Linked DNA regions of Homo sapiens. The protein of the gene in region 1 interacts with the protein of each later gene in a pairwise test. Each region holds a gene or a part of one and is shown in the gene's direction. Other genes may lie near its edges.

Region 1 (3,500 bases):
AGCTACTCGGAAGGCTGAGGCAGGAGAATCACTTGAACCCGGGAGGCAGAGGTTGCAGTGATCCGAGATTGTGCCACTGCACTCCAGTATGGGCAACAGAGCAAAATTCTGTCTCAAAAAAAAAAAAAAAAAAGCACAACTAAGTGTTCCTTAATGATGGGTGGGGTTGGGAGCAAGAGGATGGGGACCTATCTTTTCCTCCTAGGAGATAAGGGTTCCTCTCTGTTATTAGAGTTTGATAAACTGAAAGTGTCTGTTGGTTGGCGTATGGTTCTTTAGGATGATTGACAGTGGCAGTACCTGGACTAACGTGACTTTAGCTTCTTTTGGATGATTCCCTCTTGTCTTTCTGACCTTAGGACCTTCTACCGCTTTGAGGCTGTGTGGGATAGCTCTCTGCATAACTCCCTTCTTCTGAACCGAGTGACACCCTATGGAGAAAAGATCTACATGACCTTGTCGGCCTACCTAGAGGTGAGGAGACTTGGAACTTCAGTTGATGCCAACAGTCAGCCCTGAACAGTGTGCAGGTTACAGCAGGAAGTGGTCAGCGAAGATTCCACTTGTTTTGTCCTCTTTCTTCCTCCACATCCTTAAGTTTTTCATTTTATTATACATTGCTAACTCTTCTGATTATATTAGACTCTATTCCTGGGTTCTGTTTACTCAAAAAATCACATGACTCATTGCAGCTTCAGCTTTAGTAGCCTAATCACCATTGTTTGAAGAATGTGTGATTTTTAAGAAAATGTCACCTCTTGTTTTTGTAGTTGTGGACAGAGTGTAATAGTGGTTAATAGCCCAGACCCAAGACCCAGCCTGTCGGTTCAAATCCCTGTGCTGCCACTTACTTCCTCTATGTCCTTGGAGAAACTCTCTTTGCCTCAGTTTCCTCACCTATCAGGAGAAACAACATTTACCTCAGATAAAAATAAATGCATCTCTAAGGAGTACTACCTACTCTTGCACATATTATCCATTGGGTGGCTGTTGAAATAATTGGTGGAGCTAAAATCCTTCAGTTCTCACAACTGGGACTCGCTTTCCAAATACGTTCGTGTATAGACTCTAGTCACAGTACTCTGCCTGCACTTCATCAGCACCTACCCTGTCTGCTTTCAGCTGGATCATTGCATCCAGCCGGCTGTCATCACCAAGGATGTGTGCATGGTCTTCTACTCCCGAGATGCCAAGATCTCACCACCACGCTCTCTGCGTAGCCTCTTTGGCAGCGGCTACTCAAAGTCACCAGATTCGTAAGTTTTTCACACAAGTTAGCTTCCAGTGTGTTTGTTCAGTACAACAGAATCATTAGTCCTTAAGTATTCTCGGCTTACTGTCTCACGGTTAGTTTACAGTTTATGAACCATTTTGGTAACTGACACCTGGAATGTACTGACTTGCATGCTGACATTTAATAAAATGTTGATGGATGGACGAGTTATGAGGGAAGGAAGGAATATTACATTGTGAACACGTCTAAAACAATTTTGCAAAGACTAAATTTGCAAAGACTTTTAAATGTCATCATCATTATTTCTAACAGAGTACCATTGAAATTTTCTTCTTTTTAAGATTTGTTATGCATATTTAAGGCATACAAAATATGTCAGGAATAATACAGTGAAGGCCATACACAGTGGCTCATGTCTGTAATCCCAGCACGTTGGGAGGCTGAGGACAGAGAATTGCTTAAGCCTAGGAGTTTGAGACCAGCCTGGGCAACACAGACCCCATCTCCACAGAAAATTTTAAAATTACCCAGGTGTGGTGACACACACCTGTAGTCCCAGCTACTCAGGAGGCTGAGGTGGGAGGATCACTTGAGCTTGGGAGGTTGAGGTTGCAGTGAGCCATGATAGAGCCACTGCACTCCAGCCTGGGTGAAACAGTGAGACCCTGTCTCAAAATTTAAAAAAAAGAAAAGAAAAAGGAAAAAAAAAAAAAAGAAAGAAACAATACAATGAATACCTGTGTATCACCGCCCAGCTTAAAAATAAGTGTTACTAATACAATAGAAGGTATTATACCTCCTACTACTCACAATCCCCAGAAGTTGTTGATTATCATTTCATTCTAGTCATTGTTTCCCTCATATCGTCTCTCTTATAGTAAGAAAAGACAAATTTTTAGTTTTCACATTTATATTTTAAATTTTCTAGTTTATCATTCAATTTTATTCACCCTATTGAAATAAAGTGTTTAAAAGATAGAGATGAGGTGGGGCATGGTGGCTTATGCCTATAATCTCAGCACTTTTTGATGCCAAGGTGGAAGGATCACTTGAGGCCAGGAGTTCAAGACCAGCCTGGGCAACATAAGGAGACCCTATCTCTACAAAAAAACTTAAAAATTAGCTGGGTATAGTGGTGTATGCCTGAAGTCCCAACTACTCAGGAGGCTGAGGCAGAAGGATCACATTAGTCCAGGAGTTCGAGGCTGCAGTAAGTTGTGATTACATCACTGCACTCCAGCCTGGGTGACACAGGGAAACCCTATCTATAAAAAAATTAAATTGAGATGAAAGCGGACTCCTCTAGGAAAAGGTATGCTACTTAGGTTCAAAATAAGAAAAGAGCGGTGACAAATAAGAAATGCCTGGAATTATATTTGAGTCCCTGCAGAGAAGACACTATTTTAAGTAGCAGAAATTGAAATTTTCCTGTTTTTGTGCTTTAAGAGATTAAACAATTGTTTTATTTTCTTCAAATAGGAATCGAGTCACTGGCATTTACGAACTCAGCTTATGCAAAATGTCAGACACAGGTAGTCCAGGTAAGCTCTTGTGGATTGAGGAGGTGATAGTTATCTTTGTGTATGTTTCAAGTATCCTGTATTTAGGCTGGGCACGGTGGCACACACCTGTAATCCCAGCGCTTTGGGAGGCCAAGGCGGGTGGATCACCTGAGTCCAGGAGTTCAAGAGCAGCCTGACCAACATGGTGAAGCCCCCCTTTCTACCAAAAATACAAAAATTAGCCAGGTGTGGTGGCGCGTGCCTGTAATCCCAGCTACTCAGGAGGCTGAGGCATGAGAATTGCTTGAACCTGGGAGGCAGAGGTTACAGTGAGCCGAGATTGTGCCACTGCACTGCAGCCTAGGTGACAGAGTGAGACTCAGTCTCAAAAAAGAAAAAGAAAAAAAAATCAAATTATTAAGTCAGATTTGTTCTGTATTCTTTTTAATGTGTTTTTAAACTGCTCTTGTTCCTCTAGCTAGGCGGAGTTAAGCAGCACTTAGCATTTCTATGTTTGTAAACCGAAACATGAACAAAAGTTAAGGTTTTCTAATAGCATTTGATTAATGTGAGTTTGAGTCATTTTACAGAATATACATGGAAAACAAGTCAGGGCCCACAGGCAAGACTTAGATAAGTAAAGAAGACTTTGAGTATGAATCCAAGTAGCACCTAATTATTATACTATCCAGATAGTTTCTTGAGGAATTTTTTTAATTAATATAAATTCATGTATTTAATATGTAAAACCAGCATAATACTAA
Region 2 (3,500 bases), about 140 Mb from region 1:
TAAAAATTAGCCGAGCGTAATGGCACATGCCTGTGGTCCCAACAATTTGGGAGGCTGAGGCGTGAGGATTGCTTGAGCCCAGGAGGTCGAGGCTGCTGTGAAGCATGTTTGAGCCTCCTCACTCCAGCCTGGGCAGCAGAGTGAGATACTGCCTCAAAAACAAGACAACCACCCCCCTGCCCCCTGACAATTCTGTTGTAGGTAATTGAAATTTTGTAAATTTTTGGTTAAAAAAAAAAAAGTCTATGGTAGCGGAAAATATCTTTACACTTTTATTTCCTCTAATATTATTTGAGCCAAGGCCTTCATCTCTGCTTACAATTGCTATAGTATCAGAGAATATTTTGCTAACCACACTTGTAGTTACCATTTTGTTACTTTACAATAAGAACTATCTAAAGAATTGTGCACAGTATTCCCAGTGAGCACACTTCTCTCCTGTGAGTTCAAAGCCTGCCTCTGCTACTAACTAGTTTTGCCATCATGAACAAATCTCTCAACCTTTTTCGTTCTGAGTTTCTTCACAGTAAAACCAGGGACTTAAACTTTCAGTGATTCTCAGCTGAGGAGGCACAATACCTTAAGTGGAACATATTTGAATTTCAGGGGAGAAGGGTGGCTTTGCTGTTTTTAAAAGAAATTATTGGCTGGGCACACTGGCTCAGGCCTGTAATCCCAGCACTTTGGGAGACCGAGGCGGGTGGATGACGAGGTCAGGAGATCAAGACCATCCTGGCTAACACGGTGAAACCTCATCTCTACTAAAAAATACGAAAAATTAGCTGGGTGTGGTGGCAGGCGCCTGTAGTCCCAGCTACTCGGGAGGCTGAGGCAGGAGAATGACGTGAACCCGGGAGGCGGAGCTTGCAGTGAGCTGAGATCTCGCCACTGCACTCCAGCCTGGGCGACAGAGCGAGACTATTATTAATAGTGTAATCATCTGTTGAGGAAACTTTTGAAAATGTTGTTTTCATCATATAAGCTCAGAAGGTTAAATTGGGCATTATTTTTGACTGGTGGGACAGTAATTTAAAAGGGTTTTAAAATGCTGAATTAGATTATGAGGATACTTGTGACTAATTTTTGCATTATATAATTCTGGCAAAGTAACCAATAAATAGACATGTATCATAATTATATAGAGAGAAGACTTGCATACTTTTGATATTTCCCTTTCTCCTAATTTCCCAATCTATTGAGGTAACGCTTATAATCCATTTTTTACTAGGAATCTACAGATAATGGATTTTAGTCTGCACTCATTTACTGTCTATCCATGTATGTAACTTTAGGCAAATAACCAATTTGTATTTATTTTTTTCTGGTGAAAAGGCAATAAAAACTATTCTGTGCACTTCCCAAGGGTATTTTGTGGATCATGTGACGAAATAACAAAGCATAATACTTTGTAAGGTTTCAAGTTCCATATGTTTTAAAGATATTATTTAATATCAGAGTATTACTTCTGCTTTTTTCTTTTGCCTTATATGTATTTTTTATTTTTAATTGACACATAACAATTGTACATATTTATGAGATACAATGTGATGTTTCAATACATTTTATATGTGTAATGATCGAGTCAGGGCAATTAGCATATTCATCTCAAACATTTGTCGTTTCTTCGTGGTGATAACATTCAAAATCCTTTCTTCTAGCTATTTTATTTTGTTACATTATTGTTACCTATATTCACTCTACTGTGCAACGGAACACTGGAACTTAGTTCTTACAATGAATTTGGTGGCTCACACCTGTAATCCTAGCACTTTGGGAGGCCGAAGTGGGAGGATCACTTGAGTCCAGGAGTTTGAGACCAGCCTGGGCAACATAGTGAGACCCTGTCTCTACAAAAAAAATCAAAAAATTAGCTGGGCATGGTAGCATGTGCCTTTAGTACCAACTACTCTGAAGGCTGAGGTGGGAGGATCACTTGAGCCCAGGAGGTCAAGGCTGTAGTGAGCCGTGATCAAGCCACTGCACTCCAGACTCGGTGACACAGAGCAAGACCCTCTCTCAAAAAAGAAACAATAACATTTAAATAAAATATATTATAATATATTTCTCTTCATTTTTGTATATTGTATTCTTGTCTGCATACTTTTTTTCATTTTTTTGAGATGTAATTTATACATCATAAAATTAACTCTTAAATTGTACAACTCAGTAATTTTTAGTATATTCAGAGTTATGTGATTATCACAACTATCTAATTCCAGAGCATTTTTATCACCCGCAGAATAAACCCTGTACCCATTAGCAGTCACATCCCATTCCCTCCTCCCCTCCGTCCCTGGCAACCACAAGTCTTGCTGTCTTAAGGATTTGCCTGTTCTGGACATTTCATATCAGTGGAATCCTACAATATGTGGTCTTTTGTGACTGGCGTCTTTCACTTAGCATAATGTTTTCAGGGTTCATCCATGTTCTAACCATGTATCAGTACTTCGCTCTTTTTTATGGCTGAATAAGAGCCCATTGTGTGGACATACTGTTTGTTTATCCATTCAGTAGTTGATAGACATCTTGATTGTTTCCACTTTTTGGCTATTATAAATAATGCTATTATGAACACTGGTGTACAAGTTTTTGTGTAGACATATGTTTTCATTTCTTTTGGGTATATACCCAGTGTATAATGCTGGGTCATGTGGTAACTTTATGTTTAACTATTTGAGGAACTGCCAAACTGTTTTCCAAAGTGGCTGGACTACTTTACATTCCCTCTAGCAGTGGGAATAGTGTGAGCGTTCCAATTTCTCCATTCCTTTGTTGACACTTATTACTGTCTGTCTGTTTGATTTTAGCTGTCCTAGTGAGTATGAAATGGTAGCTTATTGTGGTTTTGATTTGCATTTCCCTAATGACAGTTACATACATTTTGTCCTTATTGTTGCAATCATTGTTGTATTGGTAGTCTTAGGAGTTTATAACCTTGTTGTTTGGCTGGAAAAAAGAAAAAATCTAATCTTTTCCCATTGTTTGAAAGTTACAAGGCATCTTTACATCCATTATCTAATTTGATTTCCTTAAAAACATCATGAAATAGGGCAAAGATTATTTTTATTTTATAAAGAAACTGACCATTGTGGAGGGATTCTTCCAAGGTCCTACAGCTGATACATGTAGTAGCTCTTCCCTGAGCCTGGGTCTTTGAGTCTTTATATCTTTGTCTGTCTCCCAAATCATGTTGCTATGTTGAGGAGCTTCATGGTTTATGTCCAGGGGACTCAGATTTTTCCTCTGGTTACCTTACAGCTGTAGATCCCACAGGTCACAAGTTTGTGATCCAGGACTTCTACCATATTTAATGTTAGCTGCCATGTATTGATAGCTTTTTCCATGCATTCTTGCTAATTCTCCAACTCTTTCTCATATTTGTATAAATATCTTTCAGACCTTTCCAGCTCACCCCCAGGGCCTTATGGTCAAGAAATGTATGCGTTTCGATCTGAGGAAAGATTCAAATCCCCACCCATCCTTCCTCCTCATCTACTTCA
Region 3 (3,209 bases), on another chromosome or scaffold:
GCATTTGAAAACTATTTATTTCAGTCAGTGGAAAGTCCCTGAGGAAACTGCTTACAAAACAGTTTCTAGGACATTTTCTTTGTATGTCATCATTTTTCTTTTTTGAAGGACAGTAGCTTCATTGTTATTATTAGGAATAAATGGAAGCCCACTGGTGGTAAAAGATAGTTGATGAATTAGAGATTGTTTAAACTATTTAAGCAGCATGACTCACTAAAGATTTTTTAAATTATATGTATATACGTATGTGTGTATGCATCTATATGCACATATATAAGTCTATGTAGACATACATTAAACCCCTATAGGTTATATTATCATGGAGGCGTTTTTCATGAAGCCAGTAAGAATGTATTTCCAAGGAATATTTTGCCAGCAAATGTGATATTAAATTACTTCAGAGTATCTGATGCTGATTTAGGATGTAAATGTGTTTATTAGGTTATGCATTAATTTTAATGGTGTGAATATAAGAAAGCAGATCTTGAAAAATTTCGATGTACTCAATATTCATTTATTATAAAAAAGTTTTATATTCTAAGCCTAAACCGTAGTACAATGTCTAGCAAGTAGTTGAAATTCAATTCATATATACTGAGTAAGAAACTCTTATATATAATAGATCTCTTTGAGACTCTGATAAAACTGAAGAACTCTACAAAATGGCGTACAGACACACAGTTTTGCATACAATTTCACTGGGTTCTTGAATCTCCTAAATGGTATTCAGGTTAGATTCCTTGGTGATTCTTCAGTTGTTTCTATTGCATTAATCCACTTATTGAATGCTATTTTTCTGAAAAGTGCTAGATCCTGTAGAGGATACTGAATGTAAAATATTGTGCTCTAAAGGAAGTTACATTATACAATAGAGATATGGTTTAAAAAAAAATCCTAGAGTTACTGCATTATGTATGTGGTTTTATAATGATGTGCTTGTATCTGAGAAACTGAATTGCTTTTGACCTTGGGAGAACATCCATTTTGGGCAGTATTCGAATTTATAAAATAGTTTTATAATCATAAAACTTAATTTATATAATGCCTTACACATTCCATACTCTTTATAATAATTTAAGGACTTAATCTTATCAAATAGGTCATTTGTCTAACAACTCAGTAGTATATGAGGAAATTGGGGCTCAGCAGTAGGGTTTTTTCTCCCTAAGGTTAGTAATATGAGTCATCTGCAGTGGAATTACTGTGCTCACTTCAGCAATTTCAGACTCCAATGTCTGAGGAAGGATTCATGTCTGTTTTTTTCATTCATGGCCTTGAACAGTGTCTGATATAGGTTCTCAACCTATACACTAGATTTCCACTGACTGAAAAAAAATAAAAGCAAGTATTAGCTTAATAATTTCTTCATTCAACACCTATTTAATATTTTTAATAATCTATTTGTGCCATGCACTGTGTTAGACACAAGAGATAAAGAAATGATTAAGATACAAGACTTTGCCTCAAGTTGCTCACGGTCTATATTGTGTGTACAAAAACAACCAATCAACCAATGTTGGTATTATTTGACAGTGTTGGTACATCAATGAGTTCTTTGTAATCTTGATATTTATATCCATGGATGCTGCTTGAAGCCTGAACTCCTAAGCCACTAATTAGTGGTGGGAAGAAAGAGGGGGTAAATGCTTTAAGAGCTAGCATATAACAAAAATGAATTGGGTTTATTCTGTATCATATAGAGGGCCTAAGAGGCAAACATTTCATAGAGTATTCAGAAGAACATAAGGAATGACTTTTTTCACAGTTAACAGCTGTCCAAGAGTGTAGTGGCTGCCTCGTATGATAAAGCATCTGGAACTCATTGAAAAATGCATGTAGAAAATACCAATCAGAGCCTGATTGATGGGATTTTTAATTACTGCTTTAATATTGGGACTGAATCATTTTGTAGCTCATTAGAAACATGGAAAGTATTTGTTAAATAAATAAGTCATGGAATTTCAATTCTAAGGCCATGAAAATTAAAACACCCTACCATTATTTATCAATAAAACACAGTGCAGTTTTGCTCATCAGAATTTTGCCTATGTGATAGCCTCCTGAGAGTAGGCAGAAAAGAAAGACATAGAACGCAGTGCGTGACTTACAAGGGAATAAAACTGACAGAGGTTAGTGTAAGGTATATAGGCATGAGTGGGGCTTAAAGAGGATATGGGAGAACACTGAAGACAAATATTAGTACAATTCCTATAAGGTAAATACCAATATGTCTTTCTAGAAGAAGCAATTGTTTTGGAATTGAGGAAACCTAGAATGGATTTATCTATATGACTTGGACAGGTTACTTATACTCTTTGGACATTTATTTCTTCTCAGCAAAACAAGGGTAATAATATTTAACTTGCAAGATTCGTGGAGATAAAAGCTTAAATAAACGGCAGAGTACAGTAATGCTTATATACGGGATGCTAAATAAATAACTCTCACTGTTATTACTTTGTATTAAGATATTATCTTTGCCCCCTCGTGGCAGTCTCTCAACAAAGAGTACTGTAATTGCATTTAATCCACTTAGTGGATGTGGAGCCCAAAGGGCAGCCATCACTAGAGCAGCGTACAGGCTTAGTTCCAGACTTCGTGTTTGGTTGTTCATTTCATAGGCGAGCCACGTGTTTTGTAACATATTCTCGTATATGTTATTTGGATTATTTTCAGGGCTTTCTGAAGAAAATAAACATCGAAATCATAGTTTGTGTTTATGCTACATTTATTGGGGTTGTCAGGAAAACAGAGTCCATGTAATATGTGGAAATAAGGGAGTTATAGAAATTTAACCTAACATAAACAAAGGAGGAGCTTGAAAATGAATGTCTGGAAGAGGGAAATTGGCAGATAAGAGAAAGATTCACTCATCTACTTGAAGCACTGGTGTGGGCTGACAAGTGGGAACTGAAGCTCTGTGAAGTCCAGCATGTCCAATCACTCAAATGGTTCCCAGCCAGGGGTTCTGAAGGGGGGCTATGGGAAACCAGTGCCTCTGTGTAGGTTCTAGCTCTGTTGGTCTGTGAGCAAACACCTGGTGGTGAACCTGTGCCACCATGGGTCAGTGAGGTCAGAAGGCAGGAAGACAAGCTAGATGTGGAGTAAGGAAAAGTGAAGACAGCCTGGAAATCACTGGGTATCTAACCTTAATGACTTGTGTTTCACTTCTACCTTAACAATCTCACCATAATTCCTTTTTCTGGGCC
Region 4 (3,500 bases), on another chromosome or scaffold:
TTGTGCTTTGGAATCCACAAAGCCCTAAGAAGCTCTCTTATGTCTTTGCCCTTCCCTGTTAAGATTTCCAGTTGCAAAATGTCAGAAGCTCGGTCTCGGGCTTCTAGACCCACCTCTGACCAGAGTCATGACCTGAGCAAGAGCTATCCTGGGGACCCCTGGGACAAGCAGCCCCATGCCCCATACCCCTGCCCATTCTCAGTTCATTTAGTTCAGCAAACACTGAGCCAGGTCTCCCTGGGTGCCAGGACCTGCGTGGGGAGCCATAGCCCCCAGAGTGGTACAGGAGGCAGATGCTACACAAATAACCATCACACAAGTCAGAGATGAGAGATAAGAGGCCGGGCACAGTGGCTCATGCCTGTAATCCCAACACTTTAGGAGGCTGAGTTGGGAGGATTGCTTGAGCCCAGGAGTTTGATACCAGCCTAGACAACATGGTGAGACCCACTGTCTCCAAGAATACCTACCTGGCTAATTAAAAATTAGCCAGGTGCAGTGGTGCGTGCCTGATGTTCCAGCTATTTGGGAGGCTGAGATGGGAGGATCACTTGAGCCCAGGAGGTTAAGGCTGCAGTGAGCCATGCCTGTGCCCCTGCACTCCAGCCTGAGTGACAGAGCAAGACCCTGTCTCAAAGACAGAGAGAGAGAAGATGCAGGCTTAAGGTAGGGAGAGGTCTTTGCCCTTGAAGAGACCTGGGGCTTGGCCTTAGAAGCTTCCAAGTAATGGGCCCAGTCACTCATTTCCCTGTTCAGCACGTGTATCGAGCTTCTGCTATGCATCAGACCCAATGGGAGGCAGGAGGTGAACAAGACAGAAAGAGGTCCTGCCCTCATTTCAGGGGGTAGACAAGAAAAAGGTGGTTGTAACACTAGGGACTGAGGCTGAGGGGACTTGGGAGTCTGTCTGGGGCTTCTATTCCCAGCAGGCTCTGGGATCAGCCTGCCTAGTGCATCTGGAATATCGTACAGGCTCCATCCTCCGCCGCTGGAAGCGGAACTGGTTTGCCCTGTGGCTGGACGGGACCCTGGGATACTACCACGATGAGACAGCGCAGGACGAGGAGGACCGTGTGCTCATCCACTTCAATGTCCGTGACATAAAGATCGGCCCAGAGTGCCATGGTGAGCAGAAGCCCCTTCCTCTGTGGCACCGTGACTGTGGGCAGAGCCTCCCGCTGTCTCCGAGAACACTTGCTGTTGGAAGTCTTTTTGCAGCTTTCAGAGGCATTTCACAGACATTGCTTCTGAGCCTCTGTCAACTCCAATTCAGTTTGGTGTGAGTTAAGAAATAGGTCCTTGGCTGTGTGTGGTGGCGCATGCCTGTAATTTCAGCACTTTGGGTGGCTGAAGCGGGCGGATCACTTGAGGTCAGGAGTTCTAGATCAGCCCGGCCAACATAGCGAGACCCTGTCTCTTAAAAAAAAAAAAATTGGTGAGATGCGGTCACATATGGCTACTGGGGAGGCCGAGGCAGGAGAATTGCTTGAGCCCAGGAATTCAAGGCTGCAGTAAGCTATGATCCCAGTACTTTGAGAGGCATGTAGATTACTTGAGTCTAGAGTTCAAGACCAGCCTGGGCAACATGGCAAAACCCCGTCTCTACCAAAACAAAAACAAACAAAAATTAGCCGGGCATGGTAGTGTGTACCTGTAGTCCCAGCTACTTAAGAGGCTCAGGTGGGAGGATTGCTTGAGCCTGGGAGGCAGAGGTTGCAGTGAGTGTTCATGGCACTGCACTACAGCCTGGGGGACAGAGCTAGACCCTGTCTCAAAAAAAAAAAAAAAAAGAAAAAGAAAAATCAGTCCTTTAGTGCCTTTCTCCTCTGTGCTGTCTCAGAGGTGAGCCAGGCACAGTTCCTGCCCTCCAGGCGCTCGGTACTGGATGAAGACGAAATGAAATTAGGAGGCCCAGAGAAGCGAAGTGGCCCAGAGTCACAGCAAATCTCCACATTCCTCCACCAAGGCCCAGGCCACAGTTCTAACAGGGTAACTGGGAGGTGTGCTGAGGGAAGCCTCAGCATGGAAAGGTTGGAAAGGTTGGAAACGTAGAGTGGAATCCCTCAGAGAGTATATGGGATCAGAGGAGGTTGGCAGTGGCCAGTAAACAGAGCCCAGAGAAGTCAATTCCTATTCCTGTCCCTGCTTTACTGGGGGGACCTGGGGCTTGTGCCTGTGGAAACCCATATATGTGTGTCTGCTTCCAGATGTGCAGCCCCCAGAGGGCCGGAGCCGAGATGGCCTGCTGACTGTGAACCTACGGGAAGGCGGCCGCCTGCACCTCTGTGCGGAGACCAAGGATGATGCCCTGTGAGTCACTCCCAGGAGAGGATGGGGTGGAATCTCGGGGAAAGTTACCATGTGCCCCCTTCTCATTGGGCCTTCTGGTTCTCTGACCGTAGGAAGAGGGCACTAAGGCCAGTCAGCAAGGGAGTCTTATTGGAGGCGGGTGGAGTGGATTTGAAGGGCTTGTGGTGACTGGCATGGCACACAGTGAACTCCTCATGTGGTCTACAGTGAACTCAGGATTGCTGAGGGGGAGGTGTGCACACCTGCCTCAGGTATCTGGTTCCTGGTCTTTAGCGGCCTCTGAGGTGAGCCCTCACCTGAGGGTGATGCAAAGCAGCAGAGCAGCCTAGTGGCACCCTTGCTCCCTTCTTAGAAGATGCCCTGGTGGGGGACTCTGATCTGAGGGGTAGCCCTGGACCTGCCTACAAAGGCAGTCAGCTGCGTCCCAGGCAGGGGCACCCCAATGTCAGATGCATATCCACGTGGCCAGCCTGGGTGTGTCCTTCTCAGGCACCATCTGCTGGCTCACATTCCGTCCCTTCCTACCCTCTGGCTAAGGGGTACATGGCCTTTGCGCTGGAGGAGAGTGAAAGAGATGGGTGTGTGGGAGTGGGGGAAGCTGAGCTCCAGGCAGACAGCACAGAGCCGCCTTGTCCAACCCAGCCAGGTGCCATGGCAACCAACAAAGGCCCCATTGTCCCGTGTCTGCTGGGCCTTCCTGAGGCTCTGGGGTCAGAGCTTTGGGGAAGTGTTTTGTTTGTAGATTTGGGATGTGGAGGGGGACTGGGCTACAACACCCACCCAAGAGTGTCAGAATCTGACATCCCCTGAGAGACCACCCAAGCCCAACCGTCCACTGTATAGATGAGGAAACTGGAACTTCTAGAGGGGACGAGAAGAATGAATTAGCCTAACTTAGTGCTCCATCCATGTGACTGGGGCAGGGGAGGGGTCACTTTTGTCTTCCTGAGGGAGACAAGAGATCTCTCCTTTCATGAGAGACTTGGGCTTGAGGCTGGGTTGGAGAGGAAAGTCTAAAATGTGGGGGCCCAATTCACCCACCCCCAAACTCCCTCCTCATGGTCTGGTGGGATTTGCTTTGCAGAGCATGGAAGACAGCACTGCTGGAGGCAAACTCCACCCCGGTGAGTCTCCCGTTCTCTCCCCCTTTCCCCACCACCTCCATGTGCCATGGAATCATGAGTGACTCA
Region 5 (3,433 bases), about 100 Mb from region 1:
CAAGGTTTAGATGCTGGGGGATCACTGTGGTTCTCTCAATGGCTAAGTGCCTTTCCCTGCCATTTCTAACTTCAAAGTACATGACTAAGTTATAGGCCAGAGAAATCACTGACTCATATCCAAGGTCCAGTATCCTGGACCCTCAGGGTCACTTGGAAATAGTTTTACAATAATGTTGAATGCCCAGCTGTGCGCAGTGGCTTAACGCCTGTAATCCCAGCACTTTGGGAGGCTGAGGCGGGTGGATCATATGAAGTCTAGGAGTCAGAGACTAGTCTGGCCAACATGCCGAAACCTTGACTCTACCAAAAAGTACAAAAATTAGCCAGGCGTAGTGGTGCACATCTGTAATCCCAGCTACTTGGGAGGCTGAGGCCCGAGAAGTGCTTGAACCCTGGAGGCGGAGGTTGCAGTGAGTCGAGATCACGCCACTGCACTCCAGCCTGGGCAACAGAGTGAAACTGTCTCAGGGAAAAAAAAAAAGTCAATGTTCTATGTCTATTATATTTGCTTTTTATTTCTTAGACATATGATGTGCTTTCCTGGTTAATGCTAACTCTTTTTCAGCATTTCTGCCATGCAGCCTTTTTGTTAGTTCTTTGTGTTTGTGTCTTATTCCCCCTGCTGAATTCCAAATCCTTTATTATTTTTCTATTTTTTGTAGAGACAGAGTCTTGCTATGTTGCCCAGGCTGGTCTCAAATTCCTGGGCTCAAGTGGTCTCCTGCCTTGGCCTCCCAAAGTGCTGAGAGATACAGGCATGAGCCACTGCACCCTGCCCCAAAACCTTTGAGGGTAGAGGAACCATGTATTCATCTTTTGTACACCACCATGGTGCTTGTCCCAGAGCTTTGCTTTTTTCAAGTGAGCAATAAATTCCTTTTCTTACTTCTTATCCTGTTGGCTTTCTATGAATTCTAGGGCTAGGAAAGAACTATGGAAACTGGTTTAATTCCATCCTTCTGCCTCAGGGAAGGGCCACATTCAGACTACCTGGGAAAGTCTGGTAAAATGACTGTAGAAAAGGTTTCCACAGCTTCTAATTAACATGTAGCAGTGACTTTAAAGTTTTTTACATGTAGACCTCCTAAAACAGTTTTGAAAATCTGTGCCCCCTCATACATTTTTAAACTGATACCTAAAAATGCTTATTTAAGTAGTTGCAGAGAAGGTAATTTCTGGCATATAATTTATTGTGTGCTTATTTCAAGCATATATTTGTCAAAATTTTAGATTCGCAGGTTAACGCTACTTAGTTTGCATGAATGTCTACCAAACAGCCTAACTGGCAAAAGCCAGTCTGCATTGTAAAGCCAGTGGACCAAGATAGACTAAATTTTCTGTCAGAAAAAGTCTGACTTTGTTTTTAAATTCAGATAAAGTTGTTGAATATGTCCTTATCACAATGATCTATCATATTTTTTAGTTCTCATTATTAGACAGAAACAGAGTTAAGTCACAGAGCCATACTTGTGTTTGTGGTGTGACTGAAACAAGATCAGCCCCCTTCATTGAATTTTACCTAGATGCTCTTTCTTTTTGCTCTTTGGTTCTTATGGAAAAGCCCCTTTTGTCCCTTAGTTTAGAACCCTTATATTTTTATACCCCTGAGCATTGTAGCGTGGAAAGATCTGGGATGAATGACAGGTATGTGTTCTTTCTATGAAGTGGGAGAAGAGTGATTGAAAACAGAGGCAGTTCAATTTTAAGAAAGAGAACATTAGAGAAATTGGCTCTCTTAATACTATTAGCGCCCAGAACTCCCTCAAAAGTTTTTGTATACTACTTGGAGGTGTGTGTACTCCAGTATGAAGACTGCTATTCTAGAATTATTTAGCCCTCACGTCTAGGATGCCTAAACTGGAAATTCCTTTGTTATTCTTACTAAGCCCCTAATTTCTCATTCATTATCTTCACTAATACGTTTTTTTTTTACAAGGCTTTTTAGGTTTTATAAGTCTATAAACTTCTCCTCTTAGCTTTTGTCTAATCCATAATCTCCCACAAAATTTGTTAAATTGCATCATGAGACCAGCCCTCCCTCCCTCCTGCCCCTTGATTATTCCTGGGCTGGCCCTCTAGTAATGCTTCAGCTTGTTTTCTATCATATTTCTCTTTCTCTCTCCTTTATAGCTCATGCTGCTCAGGTCACTTGTGTTGCTGCCTCTCCTCACAAGGACTCTGTGTTTCTTTCATGCAGCGAGGTAAGAGATAGCTCCTTCTTCCCTAAACACACTCCAGCCATCCATAGGCCAAAGTCTCTAGTGGGGAGACTTTCTGGCCTGCAACTGCTCCTTTGGATTATGAAATCCTTTTTCTGTTCCACCTTCCTCTAGGACAATAGAATTTTACTCTGGGATACCCGCTGTCCCAAGCCAGCATCACAGATTGGTGAGTCTGAGATTCATTGGTGGGAGAATAGTACTTGGAACCCTGATAGAAGAGACTGTCTTTGGCCAGTGTCAAAGCATAGTTGCTAGATGCCCAGTGTAGTTACTGTGACATGAGTGACATAATCTCCTTCTTTTCCAGTGAGGCTCTGCTAACCCCATTCTGTGCAATGAATACCAAGAGGAAGGGCCAGTTCCTGGGTGGGTGATTTACTTTATTAGATGGTAGGACAAAGGGGCCAGAATTGTTATCGTCATGATTCGTGCCTGAAACTTGCCTGTGACTCGTGTCCAGAAAGGGCAGGAGGCTGCTGGGATAAATGGTTATGAGGCTCAAGGATGAGGACACTGCTGCCTTAGCAGGGTTTGGGAAATCAAATAAAGGTGCTCCCAGGATTTAGAGTGATATCATTTGAGAAACTGCTTCTTCTGTACTCTGAGTTTTGGTCCAGACCCTCGTCTCTCCTTTGCAGGCTGCAGTGCGCCTGGCTACCTTCCTACCTCGCTGGCTTGGCATCCTCAGCAAAGTGAAGTCTTTGTCTTTGGTAAGGCAGCGTGTCAGACTTCATATTGACTCTGGGAAAGGGGAGGAGGAAAAAGAAAGAGCTGACTCCACAACACACAAGGCCCTTGTTGCTCAGTCTTAGCCCTCATGGACACTAGATGAATTATGAATTGAGGGTGGGGAGGTGGGGTGATGCCAACGTAGTTTTAGTGTAGTTTTGGAGAACATGATTATTTTCCCAGTGGATTTGATTTTTGATTGATTGATCCAGCTTCTGTATTCTGGGCATGGCTATAAGTCAGTGATCCACAAAGCAAGTGGATTGCTATATAGCGAATTCTGTCCTACTGTGGGTAGGTGTAGCGCTATCGTGGTCATGAGGCTGTGTATATGGTGACATAGTTTGTGGTTAAAATAATAACTGCTTCGTTCATTAACTTAATTTTCACAATGATCCAGTGACTTATTATTCCTACTTTGCAAAAGAGAAAACTGATGCTCAGAATGGTTAACTTTTACAAGCTCGAGGAACTAGGATT
Region 6 (3,500 bases), on another chromosome or scaffold:
AATACTACATATGAAAATTCATATTGCTTTTTTATTTTTTAAAAAAGCTTTTGTTTTATAAAGGATTTCCTATAGAATTTCTTAAAAATGCTACGTTTTTCAGGATAAGTTATTTGAAATATTCCCATAAAGGGAAAGCATTGCATTTTGGAAATCACTACCTCTAGGAAGAGTTGATTACTTTTTCTTGTCTCTTGATAACACTAATTGGGGCTCAGATATTTCTGAACAACTGTATAGACCGTAATGCCTCACTTGTTCTAAATATTACAACTTTTTTTTTCTCTTTTCTTTGTTTTTTGGTTTTTTTTTTTTTTTTTGAGACAAAGTTTCGCTCTTGTTGCGGAGGCTGGAGCGCAATGGTGCAATCTCGGCTGACTGCAACCTCTGCCTCCCGGGTTTAAGAGATTCTCCTGCCTCAGCCTCTCGAGTAGCTGGGATTACAGGCATGTACCACCATGCCCGGCTAATTTTTGTATTTTTAGTAGAGATACGGTTTCTCCACATGGGTCAGGCTGGTCTTGAACTCCTGACCTCAGTTGATCCGCCTGTCTCAGCCTCCTAAAGTGCTGAGATTACAGGTGTGAGCCACTGCGTCCTGCCTCTATTTATTTATTTATTTATTTATTTTTGAGACAGAGTCTTGCTTTGGCGCCCAGGCTGGAGTGCAATGGCTCTATCTCGGCTCACTGCAACCTCTGCCTCCTGGGTTCAGGTGATTCTCCTGCCTGACCCTCCCGAGTAGCTGGGATTACAGGCGCCCTCCACCATGCCTGGCTAATTTTTTTTATTTTTAGTAGAGATGAGGTTTCTCCATGTTGGCCAGGCTGGTCTCAAACTCCTGACCTCAGGTGGTCCACCCGCATCGGCCTCCCAAAGTGCTGGGATTATAGGCGTGAGCCACTGCGCACAGCCCAACATCACAACTTTTAACCCTGGTCTTCCTCTATTGTGTCAGTAAGAGCATTTTTAAAAATCAGAAGTTTGAGCATGAATAAGAATTTTGCTCCAAGTGATACTATCAAGAAAGTAAAAAAGCCTACTCAAAAGGAGAAAAAATATTTATAAATCATTCTGATAAAGGACTTTGATTTTTATTTTTTGTTTTTGGAGACAGGGTCTTGCCCAGTCACCCAGGTTGAGTGCAGTGGTGTGATCATGGCTCACTGTAGCCTCAACCTACCAAGTAGTTAGGACTACAGGCACGTGCCGCCATACCTGGCTAATTTTGTAAAAAATGTTTTTGTAGAGATGAGGTCTCCCTGTGTTACCTAGACTGGTCCTCAAACTCCTGGCCTCAAGCAGTCCTCCTACCTTGGCCTCCTAAACTGCTGGGATTACAGGCATGAGCCATGATTCCCAGCTAATAAGGGACGTGTATCAAGAATTTTTATAGCTCAACAATAAAAAGACAGCCCAATTTAAAAATGGCCAAAAGTTCTGAATGACATTTCTTCACAGAGCATACACAGATGGCCACTGAGCACATGAAAAGATGTTTAACATATTAATCATTAAGGAAATACAAATCAAAACCATAATGAAATACCACTTCACACCTACTTAGGGTGGCTGTAATAAAAACGTTAGATACTAACAAGTATTGACTGGCACAAGAAGAAATCAGAGCCCTCTCAGACACTGCTGGTGGGAATGTAAAATGTAACTACTTTGAAAAACAATCTGGCAGTTCCTCAAAATGTTACAGAGTCACTAATCCTAGATGTTTACATATGTATGTATATCCTAGGGTTGTGTGGGTGGGGGTGTACATATGTATCCCCAACAGAAATAACATGTCCATACAAAAGCTTGTACAAAATTGAAATCAAGGAATCATTTTTACAGCACTGTTAATTTTCACATGTATTACTACCTCTGGGGTGTTTATGTGATGCATTTATATTCACAGACAGAATGAACATTGTTATATTTCAAGCTTACATGACGTGTCTTTGCTTTACATTCTTTCTTTTTTTTAAATACTGTTTTAGAGACAGGATCTCACTCTGTCAACCAGGCTATAGTAGAGTGATGTGATCACAGCTCACTGTAGCTTGAGCTCCTGGCCTCAAGCAATGTTCCCACCTCATCCTTCTGAGTAGCTGGGACTACATGTGCACACCACCATGCCTGGCTAATTTTTAAAAATTTTTTGTAGAGATACGGTTTCATTATGTTGTCCAACCTGGTCTCAAACTCCTGGCCTCAAAAGATCCTCACACCTTGGCCTCCCAAAGTGCTGGGATTACAGGTGTGAGCTACTGCTGTACATTCTTTATTAATGTTTAATATAACATTGCTCAAATTATAGCTGCATAATTTTTGAAGAGGGACTGTCATTCTATAAAATTGTGCATGATATATGTAGTTATGTTTTCAGCTTACTGTAAAAATCATAAATCTCAGTCCCCTTTCAATTTTTTAATGTGAGTATGGTGAAGGGAAAAGCTAGTATCTTGTTCTGTGGGATAAAATTGCTTATGTCAAATCTGTATTTTATTTCAAAAGTATATTTCCATCAAATTAGGTTATTTAAAGAAAGTTATTTGAGATAAATATGCTTAAAATATTTTTCAGACCACATGAATATTTCTGAACTTACTGTCTTAGTCCACTTTAACCTGGCATTAGAAAGTAAGAACAAGAAATTGAACTTGAAGCCTTTTTTTTTTTTAATATATAATTGGAATTAATTCATTCATAAGAGTGGTACTCTCATGACCTAACGCTTCTCATTAGGTCTCATCTCCCAACACTGCTGCATTGGGATTAAGTTTCCCAACCTGCTTTTTCGGGGGTTCATTTAAGCTGTAGCATTCTGCCTCTAGCCCCCAAAATTCAAATCCTCAATCAGATATGGGTGAGACTCAAGGCAGGATTCCTGCTGAGGTAAATTCTCCATCTGTGGGTCTGGGAAATCAGGCATCTTATCTATTTTCAAAATACAGTGGTAGGATAAGCATAGGATAGACAGTCCCTTCCAAAAAGGAGAGATAGGCAAGAATAAGGGTAACTGGTCCCAAGTAAATCCAAAACTCAACAGAACAAACAAGATTAAATCCAAGGCACCAGAATAATCTTCCTTGGCTCCATGTTTTGCCTTCTGGGCATGCTGGGTGTGGAGTTTGGGCCCCAGAGGCCTTGGGCAGCCCCATCTTTATGGGTTTGCCACGTGCAGCCCACATAGCATCTTATGAGTTGGAGTCGGGTGCCTGCAGCTCTTGCAGGCTGGTGGTGTGCCCTGGTAGCTCAGCAGTTCTGGGATTTGGGGGATGGCTTTTTCCCCATGGCTCCACCAGGTGTTGCTGTAGTAGGAACTGCTGTGTGGCTCTGCCCTTCTGAAAAGTTTCTGCCTGGAGCCCCAGGCTCTTTGTGATGTCTTTTGAAATCTAGAGAGGAAGCCGTGCCTCCACAGTTCCTGCATTCTCTGCATCTGCAGACTTAACACCACATGGACACTGCCAAGATTTGCTGCTTGTACCTTCAGAAGCTATGGC
Region 7 (2,912 bases), on another chromosome or scaffold:
GCTTTTCTTTGGAGAGGCTTTGCACAGCTCCCAGCCTCTGCTGGCCTCGGATGGCCCTCCCGCGGCACCTGTGCCGATGGACAGGGTCCTGGGTGCCCGTAGGTTATGGAGCCGGCCCCCTCCTTGGGTCCAGAGCCCCTGGGGATGGCGCCTCATTTTGACCCTGCCCCCGTGGCCTGCGGGTGCTGGGTGTCCTGGCCCCTGCCAGGGTCCTCCTCTGGGTCCCTGTCTCCGCCTCACCTCTGCCTCCCTTCTCCTGTAGAAAGTCCTACCTCCATCTCCGTGGGCCCCAGCACCAGCCGACGGCCCGCAGCCTCCCAAAGACTCTGCCACGCCACTCTCCCCGCAGCCGCCCAGCGAAGAACCAGCCACATCCCCCTGGCCTGCTGAGCAGTCCCCAAAATCACGCACGTCCGAGGAGATGGGGGCTGGAGCCCCCATGCGGGAGCCTGGGAGCCCAGCTGAATCCGAGGGCCGGGACCAGGCCCAGCCGTCCCCGGTAACCCAGCCTGGCGCCTCGGCCTAGGGGAGGGGTGAGACGCTCGCTGCCGTGCCCGCCACACCAAGATGTTGGGGCTGCCTGGCGCCCACTGGAGACAGACAGACAGACGCCTGTCCCCCGGGACCGAGGCCTGTGCCGTCCCCACCCGCCCCAACATGGTGCTCATCCTTGCCGAGACCCCTGCGGTCTGTGCCCGCGCCCAGCCCAGCTGCCCCGGCTGCACGCCTGCTGCTCCCAGCTCGCCCGGCTGCCACAAGCTCTCTGCGGGTCCATCCTCCCCACCGGGGTCCGTCCTCGCAGGCCCTGCCCGGCCTCTCTGCAGACCCTCAAGCGTCGTCTGCATGAGTGAGCAGGCGTGGGTGGACTCTGGCCGCGGCCACACTTGGTGCTCACCAGCTGCTTCGGCCTTCAGGTGACCTCCCTCCCCACGGCATCCTGCTCTCCGGGTGGAAGAGCAGCTTTCTGTCTCCCAGAAGGCATCGCTTTTCCCTCTTGAGCAGATCGGAGCCCCTGGGAGGTTTGGAAGCTGCCTCCAAGCCTAGGACACGGACCAGTGGCCGGGGCGGCCTCTGGCCCCTGACGCTGGCTGAGACAGGCCCGTGGGGCGGGGTTTTGGGGCGTGAACAAGGCTGGCAGTAAGTGGACAAGCTGCTCCCCTGGCTAAGGCCCTGCCCTGCCCTCAGCCAGAGGTGCCTGGCCATGCCTGCACACTCCTCCCCATTTTAATAAATGGTCGCAACTTCTAGAAGTCCTGCTGGTGCCACCTGGTGGGGTGGACGTCTCTCAGACTGCCCTTCTGACAAGCAGGGGTGGGCGCCAGGCAGGCTGGGTCAGGCCCTCAGGGGTCCCTGGAGCCCTGGGAGGGAGGGACTGGGTCGTGGGAGGTCCTGGTAGCTCCCGGCACCCAACCTCGCTTCCCGTGTGGGCCCCGTGTTGCTTTTCTGCTGAGAGGGGCTTGGGCCTCGGTTCTCCCTGTGGCAGCGGCATTGGTGCCTGGGTTCTTAACCCTCTGGACCCAGCAGCTAGGAGCTTCTGGAACCCACGAGGACATCTGCCACTGGCATGGTCTACTCACTGATGGGGTCCTCCTGACTCCAGGGCAGAGACGTCCGTGCGGGAACTGACCGAGGCGTGGCCCCAGGCCCCGGCATCCTCCCCTCGCTGCACGTGGTCACTTCCGAAGCAGCGCTCCCTGTGGCCGCAGAGACAGAGCCCGCACCCTGGCTGTCTGTGGTGCCTGGGCCCCAGCTCCCGCCCGCCACCCGCCCTGTTGAGTGCGGCCTCCAGACTCGAGTCCAGAATCTGTTTCTGTCAAGTCAGTCGTCCCCAGCTGCACACGGGGACTGCTGAGCGCTGCGCTCTCACGGGTCTGTTCCGGACAGAGGGTGGCAGGGGTGAGCCCTGATCCCTTACAAAAAATACCAGCTTCCCAGGGAGTAATGGCGCCTTCACTGAAGCCATTTTGTACATGGGGACGGGGTGGGGACGTCTCTTTTTTGGTGTTGGACGTTTGACCAGTGGGGAGGGGTTCAGAGGCGGCGGTCCTGTCCTTGGCTCCGTCTGTCCGTGTGGCCTTGCTGCCATTCCGTCTGATCATTAAACACAGCTTTTGATACATATGGCCCGGCCTCTGCCTCCGCAGTGCACGGCTTGGGGCATCTGCTCTGTGCAGGTCCCGGTGAGCAGAACTGAGAGCTGGCAGGCCGCCTGGCTGTCCTGCAGAGGACGGATTGGAATTGCCACCGCAGGGCCGGCCAGTGCTGTGAGGTGCCCAGCGTCACTCCCATGGGCTCTGTGGGCCATGTGGTCCCTGTCACGCTTCTCAGCTCTGCCACTGTTGCTGGAAAGCATCACAGACCATGTGTAAAATGGGCCAAAATACCTTTTACAAAATTAAAATAGAGATGGGGTCTTGCAGTGTTGCTGAGGCTGATCTCGAACTGCTGAGCTCAGACAATCCTCCTGTCTCGGCCTCCCAAAGCGCTGCAATTACAGGCACGAGCCACCACGCCCATCCCTCAAGTAATTTTCTCGCCAGACCCTGAAATTGGAATTGTATAGCATCCTCACGTCTCAAAAGAGTTTATTATTATTTTTTTCTCTTTAAAAATGCAAAGACCTGTCTTAGCCGCTTTGGGACAAGGTTTGGTTTCCAGCTGCTGCTGGCTGGCGCTGGGCCTGTGGGCACGTGGGTGATGGATGCGGGTTTGTGTGCGGGCCGAGAGGCCAGTGAGTCCTGAGCATCTGCCAGGCATCAGGGGCTGCTGTGTGTGTTGTTCTAGTCTCACAAAGTTCTCCGCTACGTTAGAGAAAGTGAGACCCAGGCTGGGCATGGTGGCTCACGCCTGTAACCCCAGTGCTTTGGGAGGCTGAGGTGGGAGGATTGCTTGAGCCTGGGAGTTTAAGACCA

The links.
Region 2: the proteins of KIF1B (region 1) and PRKAB2 interact in binary tests that used the Homo sapiens proteins (3 or more experiments, as listed by UniProt).
Region 3: the proteins of KIF1B (region 1) and DMRTA1 interact in binary tests that used the Homo sapiens proteins (3 or more experiments, as listed by UniProt).
Region 4: the proteins of KIF1B (region 1) and PLEKHB1 interact in binary tests that used the Homo sapiens proteins (3 or more experiments, as listed by UniProt).
Region 5: the proteins of KIF1B (region 1) and WDR77 interact in binary tests that used the Homo sapiens proteins (3 or more experiments, as listed by UniProt).
Region 6: the proteins of KIF1B (region 1) and EED interact in binary tests that used the Homo sapiens proteins (3 or more experiments, as listed by UniProt).
Region 7: the proteins of KIF1B (region 1) and SPPL2B interact in binary tests that used the Homo sapiens proteins (3 or more experiments, as listed by UniProt).

What each region holds. Positions count from the first base shown.
Region 1 is NC_000001.11:10,360,570-10,364,069, forward strand, and holds part of KIF1B (kinesin-like protein KIF1B), read left to right. Parts: intron 1-359; coding exon 360-474; intron 475-1,122; coding exon 1,123-1,256; intron 1,257-2,713; coding exon 2,714-2,775; intron 2,776-3,500. UniProt on the Homo sapiens protein: Has a plus-end-directed microtubule motor activity and functions as a motor for transport of vesicles and organelles along microtubules.
Region 2 is NC_000001.11:147,162,471-147,165,970, reverse strand, and holds part of PRKAB2 (5'-AMP-activated protein kinase subunit beta-2), read left to right. Parts: intron 1-3,397; coding exon 3,398-3,500. UniProt on the Homo sapiens protein: Non-catalytic subunit of AMP-activated protein kinase (AMPK), an energy sensor protein kinase that plays a key role in regulating cellular energy metabolism.
Region 3 is NC_000009.12:22,453,032-22,456,240, forward strand, and holds the end of DMRTA1 (doublesex- and mab-3-related transcription factor A1), read left to right. Parts: 3' UTR 1-2,709; downstream 2,710-3,209.
Region 4 is NC_000011.10:73,649,581-73,653,080, forward strand, and holds part of PLEKHB1 (pleckstrin homology domain-containing family B member 1), read left to right. Parts: intron 1-972; coding exon 973-1,125; intron 1,126-2,207; coding exon 2,208-2,310; intron 2,311-3,394; coding exon 3,395-3,434; intron 3,435-3,500.
Region 5 is NC_000001.11:111,442,824-111,446,256, reverse strand, and holds part of WDR77 (methylosome protein WDR77), read left to right. Parts: intron 1-2,132; coding exon 2,133-2,203; intron 2,204-2,335; coding exon 2,336-2,390; intron 2,391-2,862; coding exon 2,863-2,934; intron 2,935-3,433. UniProt on the Homo sapiens protein: Non-catalytic component of the methylosome complex, composed of PRMT5, WDR77 and CLNS1A, which modifies specific arginines to dimethylarginines in several spliceosomal Sm proteins and histones.
Region 6 is NC_000011.10:86,258,253-86,261,752, forward strand, and holds part of EED (polycomb protein EED), read left to right. Parts: intron 1-3,500. UniProt on the Homo sapiens protein: Polycomb group (PcG) protein. Component of the PRC2/EED-EZH2 complex, which methylates 'Lys-9' and 'Lys-27' of histone H3, leading to transcriptional repression of the affected target gene.
Region 7 is NC_000019.10:2,352,684-2,355,595, forward strand, and holds the end of SPPL2B (signal peptide peptidase-like 2B isoform 2 precursor), read left to right. Parts: intron 1-262; coding exon 263-526; 3' UTR 527-2,412; downstream 2,413-2,912. UniProt on the Homo sapiens protein: Intramembrane-cleaving aspartic protease (I-CLiP) that cleaves type II membrane signal peptides in the hydrophobic plane of the membrane. Functions in ITM2B and TNF processing.